Regions from separate parts of the Homo sapiens genome. Here regions 2, 3 and 4 are each linked to region 1. Evidence: fine-mapped expression QTL. A gene starts in region 1. Each other region holds a variant in brackets. All regions are shown on one strand. Distances are between the middles of the regions. Region 1 holds the start of MEGF8 (multiple EGF like domains 8). Region 2 overlaps POU2F2 (POU class 2 homeobox 2). Region 3 overlaps CIC (capicua transcriptional repressor). Region 4 overlaps MEGF8 (multiple EGF like domains 8).

The links.
Region 2: its variant is fine-mapped to the expression of MEGF8 in atrial appendage (GTEx, PIP above 0.99).
Region 3: its variant is fine-mapped to the expression of MEGF8 in whole blood (TOPMed, PIP above 0.99).
Region 4: its variant is fine-mapped to the expression of MEGF8 in skeletal muscle (GTEx, PIP above 0.99).

What each region holds. Positions count from the first base shown.
Region 1 is chr19:42,323,300-42,328,443 of GRCh38, reverse strand. MEGF8 (multiple EGF like domains 8) reads right to left here and starts at 2,809. Exons shown (of 42, transcript NM_001271938.2): 1 at 2,014-2,809. The coding sequence starts at 2,200. TMEM145 (transmembrane protein 145) reads right to left here. Exons shown (of 15, transcript NM_173633.3): 14 at 4,655-4,861; 15 at 3,380-3,707. The coding sequence ends at 3,627. RefSeq lists silencers at 2,144-2,213, 2,224-2,293, 2,514-2,653, 2,694-2,883.
Region 2 is chr19:42,126,397-42,131,540 of GRCh38, reverse strand. All of the region lies in intron 1 of POU2F2 (POU class 2 homeobox 2), which reads left to right. Among named protein-coding and RNA genes, the nearest start is that of POU2F2, 3.5 kb to the left of the region's middle. RefSeq lists an enhancer at 1,544-1,653. The variant A/T (reference allele first, on the strand shown) is at 2,982.
Region 3 is chr19:42,282,302-42,287,445 of GRCh38, reverse strand. It overlaps CIC (capicua transcriptional repressor), which reads right to left. Exons shown (of 21, transcript NM_001386298.1): 3 at 526-675; 4 at 206-440; 5 at 1-126. Among named protein-coding and RNA genes, the nearest start is that of CIC, 16 kb to the right of the region's middle. RefSeq lists silencers at 3,482-3,656, 2,955-3,864. The variant C/T (reference allele first, on the strand shown) is at 2,035.
Region 4 is chr19:42,376,092-42,381,235 of GRCh38, reverse strand. It overlaps MEGF8 (multiple EGF like domains 8), which reads right to left. Exons shown (of 42, transcript NM_001271938.2): 42 at 2,471-5,144. The coding sequence ends at 4,461. Among named protein-coding and RNA genes, the nearest start is that of CNFN, 12 kb to the left of the region's middle. The variant TA/A (reference allele first, on the strand shown) is at 2,558.

The sequences.
Region 1 (5,144 bases):
TAAAACATAAATCAGATCATGTCCTCTCCCTGCTCAAAACCCTTCCATAGCTCCCCAGAGCCCCCAGACAAAGACAAAGCTCCACAGCCTCCCAAGGGAGGCCCTGCATGATCCAGGCTCTGTCACACCTCTGGCCTTTGCCCAGGACCTCCCCTGTCTGGAGGCCAGCTTTTACATCCACTACTCTGTGAGGCCTTCCTGGGCTTCTGCAGGTACTGCCTTTCAACTTCTCTTTCACCCCTGTATTGCCCTCAGGATACAGCTCAAAATCACAGAGCCCTACACCTGCTGGCTCCTCCCACCCTGCAGCCTCTGGCTCATTCGTTGTCTTGTATTCTATGTTTTTGTTTTTGTTTCAGATGGAGTCTCGCTCTGCCGCCCAGACTGGAGCGTAGTGGCACAATATTGGCTCACTGCAACCTCCAGGTTCAAGTGATTCTTGTGCCTCAGCCTCCTGAGAAGCTGGGACTACAGGCGCGCGCCATCACACCCAGCTAATTTTTGTATTTTTAGTAGAGATGGGGTTTCACCATACTGCCCAGGCTGGTCTCAAACTCCTGACTTCAGGCGATCTGCCGGCCTCGGCCTCCCAAAGTGCTGGGATTACAGGCATGAGCCACCATACCCTGCCAGTATTCTATGTTTTAACACACTGGATTTCTAGTTCTTCAAAAGCATCACTCTCCCGCTTCCCCGCCTTTGCACAGCTATTCTTGCCTGGAATGCCCTTCTGCTCCCTCGTACAGATGCCTCTGATCTCAGCTATACCCCAGGTTAAGCCACATGTCTTCACAGAGAAAGAGCCACTGGGGCAGGGTTCTGAGGCATGCATAGGAGTTTATTGGGTGGAAAAGGAAAACAAACAGCCTCGGAGTGGGTTTGTCTCTCCCACTGACTGGGAGCCCAGAAGGGTAGGGCTGGGGCCTTTCCTCCCACTCCTGACAGATTCCTATTGGTCCTTTAAGTCTCAGCTTAGACATTTCCTCCTCCAGGAAGCCTCTCTGTTCTCCCCGGCCCCAGATCAGGCACTTTCTCTGGGCTCTCCCAGGCCTCTGGGGTTCCTCCATCAAAGACCACTCTTGTCTCTCACTATTAATGTGTTTGTCTCCCCAACTAGACTCCAAGACCTAAGTCACCAGGGATTGCTGGAGCTGTCTCAGTCTGGGCTATGTCCAATGGGAAACATAATGTCTGGCACATGAATGACTGAAGAAAAATGCTTTTATTGAAGTACTTCACAAATAACAACAACAATAATCCTAATGCCATTTATTGAACAGTTACTATATGCCACACATCAGGCATGTTAAATACCTGTTTTCATTTCATTCCAACAACTCTATGAGGTGAGTACTGTTGTTATCCCATTTGTGGGGGAAGGAAACAGAACCTCAGAGAAAGAAAACCACCTGCTCAAAGTCACAAAGCTAATAATAAGAAGCCAGGCACAGTGGCTCACACCTACAATCCCAACACTTTGGGAGGCTGAGGTGCGAGGATCGTTTGAGCCCAAGAGTTCAGGACTAGCCTGGGCGACATGGTGAGACTCTGTCTCTACACACTCAGTTACTTGGGAGGCTGAGGTGGGAGGATCACTTGAGCCCAGGAGGTCGAGGCTGCAGTAAGTAAATTGTGTTGGTACCATTGCACTCCAGCCTGGGTGACAGAGTGAGGCCCCCATCTCAAAAAAAAAAAAAAAAAAAAGTAGTAGTAGTAGAACCAAATTCAAAGCCAAATGATTGGACCCAGACCCTGAGTTCTTAACAGTTACTCAGAAGGCCCGGCACTGATGCTCCTGTCTTGTAATTGTAAATCTGGGTGTAGGTGCATCTCCCCCACCAGACTTGGAGGCCTTCCAGGGCAGGGCCCAGGTTGGCTGCAACCCTGGGTGTCAGGCATTTTAGAGCAAAAGGCCTGGACCAGAACCGAGCTCTGGGAATGTGGTGAGTGGATGAATGCACACATGAATGAACTACCAGCGAATTAGTGAGTGACCCACGCGGCCCCACTCACCCTCGATGAGCCACTCGCAGTTGCCATTGACGCTGTAGTTGCCCGCACCATCCGTCACGAAGCCTGGCGCCTCCCGCAGCACCTGCCGCTGCCCCTTGCAGTCCCCCGCCCGGGCCCCAGGGGACAGCGACCCCAGCACGGCCAAGGCCAAAACCAGTGCCATGGCCAGAACCTTGCCCAGGGCCATCGCCGCCTCCTGCACTGACCCTTAGAGCGGGGACAGGCCGTAAAAACCTGGAGAGGACCCTCTACCCGGGGTGAGGCCCTGCAAATGCGACCTCTATAGGCATAACATGACCTTGTAGATCGAAGAGGTCCCGGAGACCCGGCAGTCCCGGCGAAGGGTACGGCCACTGCTGACAGGCTCTGGAAGCCGAGGGCTGAGCCCTATAGAGCGATGGAAGGCCCTGTATATGGAGTCATTATGGACGGGGCCGAACCCTAGGGACCGTAGGAGTCCCCTATAGACACAGGGCTCCATAGGGGGCCGATCCCATGAACAGTGCCCAGCATTACGGACTCAGGCTGCTGCAGGCCAAACGGACCTTATAGACGGGTGGGTCCCCAGGGGGCGAAGGGCTCTACGGCCCGGCAGGAGCCTCCATAGAGGCTGCGGGCCGGGACAGGCTAGGTTCGGATGGTCCAGGAGAGACTCCTCCAGCCGGGGGCGGGGCGCGAGCGGGTGCCGGGGGCGGAGCCCGTCTTCAGGGGTTCGGGCCTGGACCCCACAGACCCAATCCCTTTGCTCACCCACCCTCGCCTCCCTCCGAAGCCGGATGGGCCAGATCAGAGAGACGAGGGGACGCTTGGGCCAGAGCGGCCGCGGGAAGACCCGCTGTGGGAGGGCGAGGGGGCGGGAGCCGAGCAGCCGCTGTGGGAGGGACGGCGAAGAGGAGGCGAGAAGTTACAGAGCGGCCGGTCAGAGCGGCCCTGGGAGGACTGCGGAGCGCCCAACCCCAACCCTCCATAAAGGGAGACTTCCGGGGAAATCCCCGCCCATTTGTTCCCAACCGCATGCGCAGCAGCGTCCTCCTGGAGGGAGAGAAATACACATATGCGCAGTGCTAAGATCGTAACCCAAACTCTGGGTGCCTGTGGTTCAGCAAAGCATGGGCCACTGGAGGGCGCCTCTACCTCTGAGTGAGGAAAGGAAGGCAAAAATAAAGGAGCGGTGCAAGACCCTGCTAGATGTTTGATCATCTTCAATGTTCCCACATTCTGGGGCAACATAAAGATCAGGTTATACAGGCCCCTGCCTCCGGTTCCAAATTCCCATTTCACAGATGGACACACTGAGGTCCCGAGCCTGACATAGTTCTGGCTCAGCCCCGCCGCTGAACACCATCAAGATGCAAAAGAAGCCATGTTATAGATAAAAACGAATCCTTTTTTATTTTGGCAAGAAGGGGTAAAATGTCTTTCTGCCAGGGACCCGAGGGAAGGCCCCCGGAATGGAGATGCGGCAGATGGAGTACGGGTCCGAGGTCACAGATCCGAGGGAGGGTTTCAGGGTCGAGACCAGCATCGCAATATCCATCCCGGGGTCGCAGAGTCCTGGAGAGTCACAGGCAGGGTCCCGGCGGTCACCACGGGTGTTCCGGAGTCCAGCGGGGTCAGAGGTCTCGAAGGGGGCCAGGGGGCCGGAGGTCACGGAACAGCGGGAGCCCAGAATCCGGCGCCGCTCGGGGCAGGGGCTGAGGGAGGGGACGGGGAGAGCGGCTCCCGCGGGACCGTTTGGCACAGAGGGGAGGGGGGCGGGACGCAGCGTACCCAACCTGGGCGCGCGGGGTGGGAAGGGTCGGGAAGGCCGGGGATGGGCGAGCTCTCGGGCCGGGATAAAGCAGGGGTCCGGAGCCCGGCCGGGGCCCGGTCATGGCCCATGGGGCAGGGGCGGGCAGGGGTGCTCAGACCGGGGGTGCAGTGCCCCCGGCCGTGTGCATGCTGAAGTATTCGGTGAAGCCGGTGTGCGGCGCTGCCGTCTGGGGCACGAGCGGCTGGTAGGGCGGCGTCGGGCCGTCCCAGCCCGAGTCGGCCGCCTTGGGGAACCGAGCGGGAAGTGGGGGGGAGGCTGCGCCCGGCTCGGCCATGGTCACCACGCGGCCCCTCGGGGCCACCGCCGCCGCCACCGCTGTCTCCTCCACCTGCTTCCCGGCCTGGGAGGGGGGTCAGGGTCAGAGGCCGTCCGGGACCCTCGGGGGGCAGATGCGGCCCCGAAGGCCCGTCCCCCTCCCCCGGAGAACCCTTCCACCCCAGGTGTGGACGCACGTTGTCAGTCAGGGAAGGACTGGGTGGCGGGGCGCCTGGGCAGCGGGGCCAGGTACTCAAAGGGCGGCGTCGGGGCGCGCGGGGCGAACTCCGGCGGCGGCCGGGGAGCTGGGGGAGAGCCGCGGAAGGCGGGCGGTGGGGGCACGGCGCAGGGAGTCTGCGGGGGTGTGCGCAACAGCGCCAGAACCCAGTCAGGCAGGGTGGGCGCGGGCGCCAGGGGACGGTCGCGGCGCGGTGTTGGGGCGCGGGGAGTGCGAAAGGCAGGAGGAGGGCTCAGGGGTCCGGGCGCTGGGGGCGGCGGCGGGGCCGGGAGCGGGGTCAGGTACTCCAGGGGCGGCGCCAGCAGCTCCTCGGGCGCTGGGGCCGCGGGGCTTACGGAGGTGGCGGGCGGGGGGATGGAGAAGAGCTCCGTGAAGTTGGGCACCGAGTCGCTGATAAACGTCACGTTCCCATAGACGTGCTGCGGGAAGGCCTTGTCAGCGGATTGGCTCCCTCCGGGTCCAGGGACTCCGGCTGAAGCGATCTGCGACGTGCGCACGTGGTACGGGAAGTTCTTGTTGGCCGCTGATGGGCGGGTCATGATCTGAGGCCAGGGCCAGGAGCAGGTGTGAGAGGCACTGTCAGGCCGGAGGCTGTCCCCATAAACTTGGGGTCCGAAGGATTCCCTTTCAGTTGACATCCACCACACTTCCCTGAAGCCATTCACACTGGATTAGGCGTCCCCTCTGGGCTCTCCAAATGCCCTGGACCCTCACCTTTTCCCTTCAACAAAACTCGGCCTGTGCTTCCTCCATCAGAGGCCTGATCACTGAGCTGTCACTGATTGCTTAGGGTCAGCGTCCTGCACTGTATGATAGCCACTGGCT
Region 2 (5,144 bases), 200 kb after region 1:
AGTGTTGATGGGAGTCTTAAATGAGGTAATACATGTAGCATGCTTAGCACAGTGCCTGGAACATGGCAAGCACTCAGCCCTTCATGCCTGTTTCATTTGTGGCTGTGTAGGCATGACCATGGGCATGAGTCTTGGTTTGGTGGTGTGTGCTGTCCTATATGCGCCATTGTGTGCGGGCACCCGTGTGTCCTCCACCAACATGTATCTATTGAGTAGTTCTGTGTTGGGTGTTGGAAGTACAGTGGAAAGGGTAGCTCAGGTCTGTCCTCCTGGAGCTCCCAGTTTATTGGAGAAGACAGACCTGTCACCAATGACAGTACAGACAGGTCAGGGCTGGGATGGGGGAGGTCCAGGCAGAGGGATCAGGGCTGGGATGGGGGAGGCCCAGGCAGAGGGGTCAGGGCTGGGATGGGGGAGGCCCAGGCAGAAGGGTCAGGGCTGGGGTGGTGGGCACAGGCAGAGGTGTCGGGGTGGGATGGGGGGACAAAGGTAGAGGGGTTGGGGCTGGGATGAGGGAGGCCCCAAGCAGAGGGGTCAGGGCTGGGGTTGGGGAGGCTCAGGCAGAGGGGTCAGGGCTGGGATGGGGGGACATAGGTAGAGGGGTTGGGGCTGGGATGGGGGAGGCCCAGGCAGAGGGGTCAGGGCTGGGATAGGGGGACATAGGTAGAGGGGTTGGGCCAGGACGGGGAGGTATTAGGGGATCGTAGGAGCCCTGAAAACATGTGATTTAGTTGGTAGAGTGTCAAGGAGGGCTTCCTGGAGGAAGGGGGTGTCTGAGCAGGGATATGAAGAATGAGTGGGTATGAGCAAGCAAAGGCGGTGAGGAGAGGGGTGGGATGAAAGGAAGACTATTTGCAGGGTGACATGTTTATTTGTTGAGGTGACTGTGTATGCAACTGTGTATATGTGTGTGTGTCCATACAGTGTAGACACAGAGATCCAGGGTGTCTGCTCCCACTGACTCGTTCCTCTCTGGGGTTAAATGGGGACCTCAGAGGTGCTGGGCAGTAGGCTAAACCCTTTACTTGGGATTTCTCACAGAACAGCCCAGTGTGGGAAGACTGGGGTGAATTTTCCCTGCCTGGACATGAATTAATACACTGTGTGGCTGTGGGCAGATCACTCACCCTGCCTGGTCTCAGACTCCACACCTGTGAACTGGGTTCAGAGGTCAGCCCTGGCCATCTTCCAGGATAAGGTGACTCTGGGTGTATGTGTGTGCACTTGTGTTTGTGTGTGTGACTCTGTGTGAGCATGTGCATGTCTGGGTGTGTATCTCTGGCTGGACTGATGTGACTTGGTGTGAGAACATGTGTAAGTACATGTGTGCGTACACATGTCTGAGTCTGTGAGTGACTGGGTGTAGTATGTAGGGGGAGGGTGTATGTCTGTGTTCGACTCCGGGTGTGTGAGTTTGTATACTTTTTACGTGTGTCTGGCTGGCTGTGTGTCACTCAGTGTGAGAGTGTGTGTGAGTGCATGTGTGTACGCACGTTTGGGTGTGTGTTTTGCATATATGCCCGTGGCATCATGTCTGGGCATGTGTCGTATCTGCAAACCTGTTCACATTCCTGTCTGGAATCTGTGCACATCTGTTTCTTGTATTGTGTTGGCCGGGGCCTTGCCTGGCTGTGGCCATGGGGTGTGTACTGTTGGCAGCTCTTGCCTGCTGTCAGCGCAGCTGTGGGGCCACCTCTCTTGTTGTGTCTGCTGCCTGTATCTCCATCCCTCCCTCCTGACAACTCAGAAATGTTCACTCCCTTGAGGCCACCCAGGGACAGCTGTGGGGTGGGGAGGGGTGAGGTGCTGCTTCTGGGGAGGACGGGGGCTCGGCCAGCTGGGCCCACAGAGGTTCCCGGCAGCACCAACCTGCCCACAGGGGCTCCCAGGCCATACCCCTAATTGAAGCAGGCTGCGGAGGCAGGGGACCCAGGGGACAGGACAAGTGGGGCCAGGAGGGGTGAGGGGCAGTCCTTGGGCCCTCTATATTTAGCCCCGTTTTCGGTAAGTGCTAACGAGAAGCTGGCCTAAGTCTGCTAAAACTGGCGGGGGGAAATGCAGAGGAGAAGTGAAAGTCCGGGGAGGGAGGAGTGGGAGGGTGGAGAGGACCAAGAGTCCCAGGCCTGGGGCAGTCGGGCAAGTGAGTGTGAGCTCAGGGCTGGGCAGCCCTGGTTGAGGGGTGTCTGACCTGAGGAAGGTGGGATTCAAGGGGCAACATGGCTCCAAGGGGCCTGGTAGGGCTATGCATTGCTTTTTCTCTTTCAGTTCCCCTAAAATATTACACATTACCTATGATGAGGGGTGGGAATAGCCATACATAACCAACCAATCTTTTGTGTGTGAATGAGGCTTTGAGAGGGGCTTCTGAAGGTGCCAGGGGATGGAGCACATTAGAATCACCAGGAGGGGGCTGGGTGCGGTGGCTCATGCCTGTAATCCCAGCACTTTGGAATGCTGAGGTGGGCGGATCACTTGAGGTCAGGAGTTCGAGACCAGCCTGCCCAACATGGTGAAACCCCGTCTCTAATAAAAATACAAAAATTAGCCGGGCATGGTGATGCATGCCTGTAATTGCAGCTACTCGGGAGGCTGAGGCAGGAGAATCGCTTGAACCCAGGAGGCAAAGGTTGCAGTGAGCTGAGATCATACCATTGCACTCCAGCCTGGGCGACAGAGTGAGACTCTGTCTAAAAAAAAAAAAAGAGAATCACCTGGAGGGGCTTTTAAATATCTGGATGCCCAAGTCACACCCTGTACCACTGAAATCAGAGTCTAGGGTGGGAACAGGCATCAATATTTTTCTAGAGTTGAGTGATAGGCGATGGGCATCTCTGCCTGGGCTCAGGCTGAGGCTGAGGCCGAGCCATTTGATGGACCCTCCAAGTCTATGATTGCTAGTGCCCTGGAGTCCCTGTTAAGGCGTCATTTGGCTTTTAGTCCACGGTGGAAATGGAGCTCCCTGTTCATTCCTGGTGGAAATG[A/T]TCTGACCCTTCTCTCAGATTGAGCTCTGACAGGGGAGGTGGAAAGAGAAAAGACAAAGGGCAGCAGTTGGCCATTTTGTTGTGACCCAGCCAAGTGTGGGGCAGGGAGTATGCAGGGATATGTAGGAGTGGTTGGGATAATTTAGGGAGAATAAGGGTAACAGAATGGTGAAAAATTTCCCTCAAACCACTCTTGTCTTTCCAGCCACAGTCTCTGCAGAGGAAATCATACCTTAAAGATTTAAGTTAGGGTTTCTTGGGGATGTTGGGTGACAGTAGAGATAGGGGTTTGTTTTAGACAGGATTGGGCCCTGGTCAGTTAGGGGATTCTTTAATGCATTCATTCATTCCAAAGACGTACTCCTAGGCCTGTGCAGCAATGACTCCAGCCTGGGCTCCTGAGGAGCCCACAGTTGGGGTGGAGGTCTCTGCCCAGGATGATCAGGATGTGGTGGAGCACAGTACAGGGTCAGTGAAGCCCAGAAGAGAGAGACACTGACCATCTGGGGAATCAGAGAGTACTTCACAGAGGAGGTGACATTTGAGCTGGACCTTAAAGAGGAGCAAGAGTTTGCCAGTAGAGAAGGAAAGGGTCACCCAAGTGGGAGACGAGCAGAGGCAAAGGCCTGGGGGAGGGAGATCAGGACCTTGGGGCCACTGATCCACATGTCTTCTGCTGGGGAGTGTTTAGGAACCTGAGATCAGATCTGCCCTTGAAAAATTCCTAGTCTGATAGGGGAGACATAGTGGGGCCCGGCTAGCTACAGTCAGCCTCTAAGACAGTGACAAGGGAAGGTGCTAGGGTATGGGGAGCTGGAGAGAGACCTGGCTGGGAGCTGGGGGCATCAAGGTGGTGGTTTCATAGAAAACAGAGCTTATGGCCGGGCGTGGTGGCTCACGCCTGTAATCCCAGCATTTTGGGAGGCTGAGGTGGGCAGATCATGAGGTCAGGAGATTGAGACCATCCTGGCTAACACAGTGAAACCCCTTCTCTACTAAATATACAAAAATTAGCCAGTCGTAGTGGCGCGCACATGTAATCCCAGCTATTTGGGAGCCTGAGGCAGGGAATTGCTTCAACCCAGGAGACCTCTGGAGCTTGCAGTGAGCCGAGATCCCACCACTGCACTCCAGCCTGGACAACACAGCAAGACTCCATCTCAAAAAAAAAGAAAAGAAAACAGAGCTTATGCTGGGTTCTGAAGGATGAGTCCGGGGGTCGCCAGGTGGACAGATTGGGGAACAGTGTTCCAGACAGAGGGAACAGCCCATGCCAAGGCCTCAGGAAATGTTTTAAATGGCAAAGTGCAGGCATGGTGGCTCATGGCTGTAATCCCAGAACTTTGGGAGGCCAAGGCATGAGGATCATTTGAGCCCACGAGTCTGAGACCAGCCTGGACAACATAAGGAGACCCGTCTCTACAAAAAAAAAAAATTTTTTTTTTAATTAGCTGGATGTGGTGGTGCACAGCTGTAGTCCCTGGATGTGGTGGTGCACACCTGTAGTCCCAGCTACTCAGGAGGCTGGGATGGGAGGATAGCTTGACCCCAGGAGGTCGAGGCTGCAGTGAGCCGTGATTGTGCCACTGCATTCCAGCCTGGCCGACAGAGCAAGACTCTTGTCTCAAAATATAAATTAAATAAAATAAATAGCAGGGAGACAGTAAGACAAGGGTGAGAAGTAGTAGGAAACAGAGACTGCTAAAGAGAGGGACATTCAGCAGTTACAACCCGTTCTGGGCTTGTGATGCTGGGGACCCAGTGATGAGTCAGACCAGGCCTGTCGCATTGGTCTTGTGGGGAAGGAACCTGGACACAGACAGCCACAACTGGGGGCTCAGGGATGGGACAGCAGGAGGGCAGGGGCTGTGAGAGGCTTAGTTTGCTAGGGCTTCCACATCAAAGTACCACAGACTAGGTGGCTGAAATAAGAGAAATTCATTTTCACAATTACGGAGGCTGTAAGTTAAAGACGAGGATGTCAGCAGGGTTGGTCTCTTCCAAGGCCTCTCTCCTTGGCTTGTGGTCCACTGGTCTTCTCCTGGGTCTTCATATGGTCTTCCCTCTGTTCCCATCTGTGACCTAATTCCCTCTTTTTCTTCTTTTTTTTTTTTTTTGAGATGGAGTCTTGCTCTGTCACTCAGGCTGTAGTGCAGTGGCACG
Region 3 (5,144 bases), 41 kb after region 1:
TTGGGGCTGCGTCCATCCTTCTCAGAAGATGAGTCCCGTTCCTTGGGTAGGGCACTGAGGGACTGGGTCCGACGTTTTCCGGGCGGTAGAGGCAACTGGATCTCAGGAGACATGATGGAGAGGAAGCTGCGGCGGGGCAGCAGGGACAGTGAGGGCCATGTCTCTGGCCATCCCACCCCCAAGTCCCAGGCCTCAGGGAACTCACGCATCATCATGGTCACTCTCTGTCTCACTGTCCAGCCGGGGCTCTCCTGGGGGGCCGGAGGCCTCCTCCTCCGTGGTGGGAGGCGGACCCTTACCAGATTCCACCACCCCCAAAGGGTGTGGGGGTCCGGGTCCTGGGCTCTCAGGGCATGTGGCTCCAGGGGGCCGCTCAGGGTCAGCACTCCCTGTCCCACCTGGTGGCCGTTCATGAGCAACAGCTGCCGACTCAGCAGGTTCTGGGGACACAGAGGTAGATCAGAGGGCTCCTAGGCCACCTGGACCCCACACCCTTGCCTCCCCCCAGTCCCCACCAGCCCTCACCTTTGCTCTGGTTGGAGGCCACTGGGTGGCTGGCAGGTTGCTGGGCCTCGCTCGGCTGCACGGAGGGGTCAGGCTGGCTGGGTGCCAGGAAGGGGACTAAGGAGTGCCAAGGGAACACAGCCACAGAGCGAGGTTCCACATTCGTCCACACTGTGGAAAGGAGCCAGGTGAGCTGTGCAGCAGGAGAGCCTGGCCCCAACCCCAACTCAAGCTCTTCCCCACCCTAGATGAGGTAGCCCCACCCCTTTTGTCTACCCCCCACCCCCAACACCAGAGCCTCTTGGACTCGTCCATGCAACGTCACTCAGGAAAAACTCCTCCCTGAAAGGTTTCTAGATTTATAAAAAAGAAAACAGAAGCAGGGAAGGGAAATAGTACTCACGCCCCACTCCTCCCCCCACCAATCTCCACCAGCCCTGCCACCAGGGACCAGGCCAGAGGAACGATTTGCTCCTGCCACAAACCAGGTCATGCTTGGCTGCCATCCCACACTCCCAAGGCCCCAGACCTCTACGGGCTGGGACCCCCACCCCCGTCATGCCACATTCCCAGCAGCCCAGTCGCCGCCCAACACAGCGTCTCACCTTGGCCTCATGCTCTCTTTCCCTTTCCTGAGGCATACGGCCCCACGTCCCCTCCCCTCCAACTCTCCGTTCACTATGCACAGGCTGTGGGGTCTCTTACAACTGTGGTGTGGGAGAGGTCCTGCTCCTTGCCTTCCTCCCCCACCACAAACACAGAGTGCCAGACCTGCCCTTCCTGGCTGGGCACAGGTGGCTCCAGCAGCTCTCTCCTTTGCCCCCACAAAGACAATGCACCATCCAGAAATCGGCCTCCCAGCCTCCCTTCCCCATCAGCCCCTCGGCTTATCTGTAGTCCAGGGTCCAGCCCCCTTGCCCAAAACAGGGGAGGGTGTGGTAAACTCCTTGGAAGAAAAACCACGGACAATGGGCCAGAAGAGAGAATTGTAACAAGTCTCTACCCAGAGAGGGCACAAGTGCCAGGTGTTTCCTTGAGGATATGCACAGGAAGATGCTTCCTCACCAAGAGGCTGGTCCCAGGGGTCCAACCTTCAGCCCCAAGAGGTGGGTGGTGGAAGAGCAAGCCCTAGGCTGGGACCTACCCCTGGCTGGACTTTTGGGGCGGGCCTAGGATACCAGTGGGCTTCCCCTCACACTGCCTGGCTCCCTGGGGGAAGTGGAACCAGCAGAGGAGAGAGGCCCCTGCTCGGGGAAGATGAAGAAGGGAGGAGGGAACCGCCCTAGCCCTGCTCTCCATCATTCCAGGCCTTCCCTTGATCCGGATCAACCTGACCTGAGGTGACCTCCCCATGCCTTCAGAAGCCTGGACAGGGGGGAGCTCTGTGCGAGGCACTGGCCTCGAGACCTGATTCTGAGAGGGGCTGACAAAGGAAAAAGTAGACCTCAGGAAACAAGGGACTGGGATCACGAAGACAGCACTGAAGAGCACTCAAGACTACGATGACCCTGTCCCTTACCCCTGAAAACC[C/T]GCTGGGCCCTCCAACCCCATATAAAAGCCTCCAGGGACTTAGACCTGTGCCTCTCTTTGCAAAGATCTTTCCCATCAAGGCCTCCTCTTTTCTGGGGGGTGGGGAAAAGGGACCCAGCAGACAATGGAGGGCAGTCCTTTGGTCCTGCTCCCTCCTGAACCCCTCCCCAGTGCACAACCCTCCAGGTTCTTAGGTGTCGCGCTCTCTGCAAACTACACCACACACTGCAGCCTGTCACTCTGATCTCAGCTAACAGTGCCTCACTCGCTTCCTGAGCCCTGTCCTTAGCCCCACTACCCAATCCAAGCCTCCTCCCCTAGGACCAGCAGGTCTCGTGCTGTTCCTATTCTACCCCATGCTCCAGAGCCAGTTACTCTGCACCCCTCACCTTTCTATTACAGCGGACCTGTGCCATCCCATCACTTTAACATCACAGCTGTCCCCAGATACGCCCCACTCCGCTACACTCCCACCTGCCATCACTAACCACTCGGCCCGGCCGAGCTCCGTAACTTTCCCCGTCATCCCTTTACTCTGCCTCTACTGTTCTCTCCCCTACTATACCCCCACCACCGTTACTCCGCACTTAGCACCCCGACACCTTGACCCCTGCAGTCCCAGGGCCCAGGCGCTACTGACCGAACATGCCGAGGCCACGGGAGGCCGCGCTGGACGCGGGCATCAGGGGCCTGTGGGCCGAATACATGGTCCGGCGCAGGGGGGACCCGGCAGGGGCTCGCACCTCCTCAGCGGCCGACGCCGCTCCGCCCGCAGCCCGCTCCTCGGCCGTCGCCGCTTGGGCCCGGGGGGAGCGGGAGGCCGTCGCCGCATGCCCCCCCCCCCGCCGCCCCCCTCCGGCCGCCCCACGCGGGGGTCTCTGCCGGGCGCGCCTGCGCACAGCGCCGCCTGCCTCCCGCCGCCCGGGGGGCGGGGGAGGTCAGCGCGCACCGGCCCCGCCCCGCCCCCCGGCGCGCGCGGGGGCCGTCACGGGGCGCGCGGCACGGGGGCCATCGGCACCGCCCCCTCCCTCTCCCTCCTCCCTCGCGGAGTCCGGCGGGCGGGGCAGGCGGGGCAGGCGGGGCGGGGCGCGACGCGCGTGCGCGGGGGCGGCCCCCTCCCTTCCCCGCTCGCTGGCTCGCTCGTTCCCTCCCTCCCTCGCAGCTCCGGCGGGTAACGGCTCTGGCCCCGCGCGTCCCGGCTGCCGGCGCCGCCGCCCCGCCTTTCCGGGCCCCGGGCCCGAGGCTCAGCGCCGGGTCGACCTCCGGCCCCGGGCGGGCAGACGGACCAGCGTGCGTGCGTCCGTGCGCTCCGAGCGAGCCCCGCGCCGAACCACCACCGCCTCCCCGCCCCGCCACTACTACGCGCTCCCCTCCCCCCGCCGCGCCTCCCCCCGCCCCTTCCCCGCTTCCCCCGCGGCCTTCCGCGCAAGCCCGGCCCCCCGCGCGTGAGCCCATTGGCTGCCGCCGCCGCGCGCGGGTCAGGCCCCGCCGCGCCCGCCCCCATTGGCCGCCCCGGGGGAACGTCAGTCATATGCAAATAAGGGCAGGGCGGGGCGGGCTCCGGTTGGCCCCGAGCCGGCCGGGGGCGGGGCCGCGGTAGGAGGGTGGCAGGGAGGGCGCACTGCAGTAAAGGCACCGAGCCAGGGGGGCGGTTCGGGGCGCCGCGCTGCGGAGGTCTCTGGGTTGTGCGTGGTGCTGTTGTGTGTCCAGTCCGCGCGAGGAACACGCTCACGCGCGGCTCGGCCCGCCTCCCGCACACCCGCCTGGGCGCGCCTGGCCCCGCTGGGCAGACAAACTGCGCGTAGGGCTGGGCGAGGCATCCTGAGCCCTCACCTACTCACACTCACACTCCTCACAGACATACAGACACACTTTCGTGCCACACCCATTATCTCCTACACACCCCACGGGCACATATGCCCTCTGTCTTACACCCACGCTGTCACACCTCACATACCTGCTCACACAGATGTACAACCTCACACGCTCACGGTCCATCGCTCCCCACCCACCATCGTGCATTCACCCATCCTGTTCACATCACCCATCTCATCCATGCCCTGTCACACATGCTTCGCCAACCCGCATCCTCATCACACCCCCACCAGCCCACATGAATCATGCAAACAGACAACATGTCAAACAGGAGGAACTCAGCATAGCCCTGCTTGTCCACTACACACACTCCACACCCCTCCCACACAACCACACACTCCTCCGTCACACACACAGCCTTCCTAGCACTCACAAAGCGCCTCCTATCCCCAGTGCACACTCAGCTCTCACAGACACCATCATACCGACCCCACCCTCTATATAATCCTACCCTAATGGGTGCTACCTGCTTCAGTACCCAGGCCCATCAGGTATACAGAGCTCAGTGGCCACCGCCATCATTCAGCCACCCACCCTGACACTCATTGGCCACTCTGGACCCTCTGTCTAGCAGTATAAGGCAGGGAACCACAGAGCACACCATGGCTGGCCCCACCACACTGCTCTGCCAGCCACCCACTAACCCCGCCCCCCCTCCCAGAAAAAAAGGGCCAGGAAGAAAGGAAACTAACACTTACTGGGGCTGCTGTGTGCTGGGAGCTTGTATGTATTATCTGGTTCATTGAATCCTCACAGCCACCTAGGGAGGTATGCTTTATTACACCCATTGTTCAGGTGAAAAAATGAGCCTCAGAGATTGAATAAACTGTGGCAAGATCATGCAGTCAAGATGTACCAGCCCAGAGCTCTAACTCAAGTGCTGTTTCCATTACTCAAGGCTTAACCTCAGGGTGGACCCAGGGAGGGAACTCCAAACAGAGGCTGGGGAATATAGTTAGACAATGATACAGAGCCACGTGGACCACAGAAAGGCGAGGGGGGCTCACACAAAGACACAGGCAAGGATGTGGAGCCCATCTGGCAGAGACCCAGAGGCCCTGGATCACCCAAGAGGGGCCCTGGAGCCATACCCAGTAAAGGCACAGGACTGGGGTCACACACTTGGGCACGTAAAGGTTGCACAGGCTCAGATGGACCAAGACTGGGCTCTTACACAGGTTGGATGGTCAACAGGAGCAGACGAGCCCTTTCCCCAACCTGCCTCATCCACTGAC
Region 4 (5,144 bases), 53 kb before region 1:
AGACACAGGGTTTCACCATGTGGATCAGGCTGATCTCGAACTCCTGACCTCGTGATCCGCCTGCCTTGGCCTCTCAAAGTGCTGGGATTACAGGCATGAGTGAGGTGGACTGTTGACCCTTTTGATTTGTGGTTACAGATGCTTGGAAAAGCCTCACCCTTCCTGCTGTGAGGTACAGGTAGTCATGTGGCATCACCTCTAAACGTGTGCTGGGACAGCTTTCAGCTATGTCGACCTAATTTAAGGGGTCCTTCCTTGGGAGGTGGAAGAGCCTGGTGGTCAGGCACATAGGTCTGAGAGTCAATTGACAGCTCTCATGCAACAGCTAAACCATGTCTATGACCTTTTGTTTTCTCATCTGCAAATGGGGATTACGGGTTACTGACCTCATATGATTGCTGGAGAGACCAAATGAAACCACAGCAGTATGCTATGCAAACTGTCCAGCATGTGCTGCTCAGTTCATATAAATGCAAGTCCACGATCATATCCTGGAGGGTAGGTGCTACTAATAGCTCATAAAGGCAAAACTCACGTGAGGTCAAGGTAACCCCTGGAAATCCCTTAAATTGCCCACAAAGTATGAAGATACCATGTTAAACCTGGGCAATACAGCGAAAACCTGTCTCTACAAAAATACCAAAAAAAAATAGCCGGGCCTGGTGGCGTGCATCTGTAGTCCCAGCTACTTAGGAGGCTGAGGTGGGAGGATCACTTGACCCCAGGAGGTTGAAGCTACAGTGCGCCAAGATCACATCACTGCACTCCAGCCTGAGTGACGAAGCAAGAGCATCTCCGAAAAAAAAGAAAAAGAAAATACAGTGTTATTCCTGGCCCATAATGGAGACTCACACACCCTCTGGGTCCCACACATCGTCCTCCGCTGAGCACCTGATGAAGAAACCAGCTTGCACTTTGGAGCCGGGATGTGCAGAAAAGATACATTGTTTAACACACCCAGCAAGATGCCTATGCTGCTGAGGCTGATGGAGAGGACAGAGATCTCCAGCTCCCACCTGGGAGGAATCAGGGATTTTGTTTGCCTAGGTGCATGCCAGGTAAAGCAGCTCTCATGATGCTTTCGGTTTTGACTGTGACTCTAATGGATTAGAGAAAGCTCACTGGGCTGGGCGCGGTGGCTCACGCCTGTAATCCCAGCACTTTGGGAGGCGGGCGGATCACGAGGTCAGGAGATCAAGACTATCCTGGCTACCACGGTGAAACCCCGTCTCTACTAAAAATACAAAAAATTAGCCAGGCGAGGTGGTGGGCACCTGTAGTCCCAGCTACTCGGGAGGCTGAGGCGAGAGAATGGCGTGAACCCGGTGGGCAGAGCCTGCAGTGAGCCGAGATTGCACCACTGCACTCCAGCCTGGGCAACAGAGCGAGATTCCGTCTCAGAGAAAAAAAAAAAAAAAAAAAGAAAGCTCATTGTGCTAGGGTCTCATTTCATTCTCAGCCCTGTCTGGTTTGAACCCTTCTATTGGGGCCCAGAATAAAATCTGTGCCTGGGCTAGGCATGGTGGCTCACACCTATAATCCCAACACTTTGGGAGGCCAAGGTGGGAGGATCACTTGAGCTCCAGAATTCAAGACCAGCCTGGGCAACATGGTGAAACCTCATCTCTACCAAAATTACAAAAATTAGCTGGGTGAGGTGGTACACGTCTGTAGTTCCAGCTACTCGGGAGGCTGAAGTGGGGGGATCGCCTGAGCCCAGGAAGTTGGGGCTTCAGTGAGCAATGATTCCATCACTTCACTCCAGCCTGTGTCACAGAAAAAGAGACACCCTGTCTCAAAAAAAAAAAGAAAAAGGCCAAGTGCAGTGGCTCATGACTGTAATCCCAGCACTTTGGGAGTCAAGGTGGGCGGACCACTTGAGGTCAGGAGTTTGAAACCAGCCTGGCCAACATGGTGAAACCTTGTCTCCTCCAAAGATAGAAAAAAATTAGCCAGGCATGGTGGCGCGTGCCTGTAATCCCAGCTACTTGGGAGGCTGAGACATGCAAATCACTTGAACCCGGGATATAGAGGTTGCAGTGAGCCAAGATCACACCACTGCACACTAGCCTGGGCAACAGTGAGACTCTGTCCCCTCAAAAAGCAAAACAAAACAACAACAAAAAGCCGTAGCTGGGACCAAGGCAGCCTGTTTTCCCTCCTGAGCCAAACTGGGGTTTCCCTGAGGAAGATCTAGGGAAGGGTCAAATTCCACTGCCCACGTCTGCCCTCAGCGCGTCCCTTCTGGGAAACAAGAGCTGTTTATTGGTATTTATTATGCTTCTGTTGGGGCATACCCTTCCCCCTTCCCCCTTCCCCCTTTAAGAGGGGCAGCCAGGAACAAAGCCACCCCAGCTTGGAAGTGGCACCATCATAAGGGCAATTATCCAAGTTATCCAGCATGCGGGGCTGGGTCAGAGTTGAGACCTAGCCCTGCTGGGACATGTGCAGACGCGCTCAGACACCTGGGTTTTCCCCATACTTTTTATTTGTTAATTTCATCACCCCCCTCTTCTTCTGATGTGGTCCCCACCACCTCTGACATGCACGCATTGGC[TA/A]GGGCCTCTCACACTGAGGCTCCACGCGAAGGGAAGATGCAAAGTCCAGTCCCTCCAGGAGCTAGTGATGGAAGTCTTGGGAAAGGAGAGTCCCAAGTTCAAGAAGACAGCTAGGGTAGAAGGGAGGGAGGTCCTCAAGGGGTAGAGGACAGGAGTCCAAGGAGGTGGCTCAGGTGCGGGGTGGCGCCTCAGGAGAGCCCAGAAATCTTCCAGGCAGCACTGTCTGGAACAGGGCTGTGCACTGACGGTACCGGCATTTTCATCCCCAACCTCAGTGGCCCCCATGCCCACCTGGGGTGGGATCTCAGGCAGAGGTTTTGTCCCCTCTGAGGCTCCCCCACAACACGCCTCTGTTGTTCCAGCTTTGCTGTGTGACCCTGGTCCCCGGTGAGGTAACACCACCACTGAGCTTTATCCCTGCAGCCTGGGGGTCCTATTCACCTCTGGGCTGTCTCAGGGTGCCATCTGTCTCTTTCCAGCTGCTTCCCTCGCCAGCGCTATCAATCCCCCCATTCAATTTCTGCTGTTGAAATATTCAGTGTTTCTGTATCCCTAGTTGGACCTGAGTGAAGAGATGTCTGAAGGGCATCTCATGTCAAGAACCAGACTCTGATCTTCCTCACAAGCCTCAGTCTGCCCCATTCAATTAACGATCCCCTCAGCCACCCACAGTTCAGGCCACAAAGCTAGGGGTCATCGTGGTTTTGTCTCCTCCCTCACCCTGACATCCACACCATCATTTATATTCTTCCATACACATCCCACATCTGAGCCAGACTCCCTCATTGCCAGCACCCTACTCCAGCCCACCATCCCTGCTGCCCCTCTTGTCCCTCCGGTCCATTCTCCACAGCACAACTGAGTGACCTCTTAAATTTTTTTTTTTTTTTTGAGGTGGAGTCTCGCTCTGTCACCCAGGTTGGAGTGCAGTGACGCAATCTGAGCTCACTGCAACCTCCGCCTCCTGGGTTCAAGCGATTCTTCTGCCTCAGCCTCCCGAGTAGCTCGGACTACAAGTGTGTGCCACCATGCCCAGCTAATTTTTGTATTTTTAGTAGACATGGGGTTTCACCATATTGGCCAGGCTGGTCACGAACTCTTGACCTTGTGATCAGCCCACCTTGGCCTCTCAAAGTGCTAGGATTATAGGCATGAGCCACCGCACCCGACCCTCTTAAATTCTTAAATAGGTACATCGGATCCTGTCACTCCCCTTCATCAAACCATCCAACAGCTTCCCATTGCCCTGAGAATAAAACCCAAAACCCTATGTGGGGCCCACAAGGCCCTGGGTGATCCAGCCCCTGACTATCCCCAGCCTCATCTCCTCACACTTGATCTGGGTCACACTTACCAGTTTTCTGGTCCTTCCAATAAAACAAGCCTGCTCCCACCCCAGGGCCTCTGCCTTTGCTTCCCAAAGCTCTTCCCGTAGCTGGTTCTTCTCAGGCGTTCTCAGTCTAGCTTCTTTGAATGCCCAGCTGACTTCACCCCATCGTCCCTCACTGCCACATCCTCTGGAGGCCTCACAGTGCTTCTCCCTCTCTGAAGCCATCTTACTTGTGTGTGCACATGTGCATGTGTTCATGTGTGTATGCGTGTGGGGTGTGTGCATGTGCACTGATTGTCTCCCTTCACCAGAACCTAAGTCCCATGAGATCAGGGAACCTCGTCTCTTGGTTCCTGCTTTGCCCCACGCCTATGACAGTGCCTGACAGAGTAGGTACTCGATAAATAGCTGCTGAATGCAGAACAAAGGAGGCCCCATCTGGGCAACCCTGGGGGAAGGGGGCCAGTGGTCTCCAAGTAGACAGTGTCCAGGGGCCCCCAGGTGGAGGGACCCCAAGTCCAGGGCGGCCCTATCAGGTGACCCAGCTGCTGTGGATGAGAACCCTGGGCATGTCAGAGGGACATGCTGGTGAGGTTGTCCTGGCTCAACAGTCCCTTCCGGCCCGCACCAGTCCCATGCCCACTGCCCCCAGCACCCCCACCACCCCCACAGTACTCGTGCAGCCTGTGCCGCAGTGTGACGAGGGCTGACCCCAGGCAGGCGCCGTTGGGTGCATGGGGCCCGCCAGGCAGCTGGAGCAGCAGTGTGGCCACGCCAGCCATGCCATCTTCTGTGGGCTCGAGAGTGATGGGCCCAGCTCGCAGCCCAGCAGTGGTGGCGGGGATGGCTGGTGGGCAGCAGCCCCCTCCCATGGGTCCCCAGGGCCCACCGGCCCCTGTCAGCAGCAGGGGTGCCAGGAAGGGCTCAGAGCGGCGGAAGGCGGGAGGTGGGAGCCCAGCCGGCTTCCAGGCGGAGGCCGGGGCAGTAGGGTCAGGTGGGAAGCAGACGGTGACCTTGGCGAAGGGGCGGCTGGCCATCTTGGTCATCTCCTGCAAGTGCCGGCGCTGCTCCTGCCGCTGGTCCAGAGCCTGCTTGGCCTTCCAGAGGAGCACACAGAGTGAGAGGAAGAGGAAGAAGCAGGAGAAGAAGACGGAGAAGAAGACAAACAGGTCAATGTGGGCCTGGTCCTGCCGGAAGAAGAGCAGGCCCTGCGAGTCGGCTGAGCCGTTGGCGCCGGGCCCACTTGGGTCTCCCAC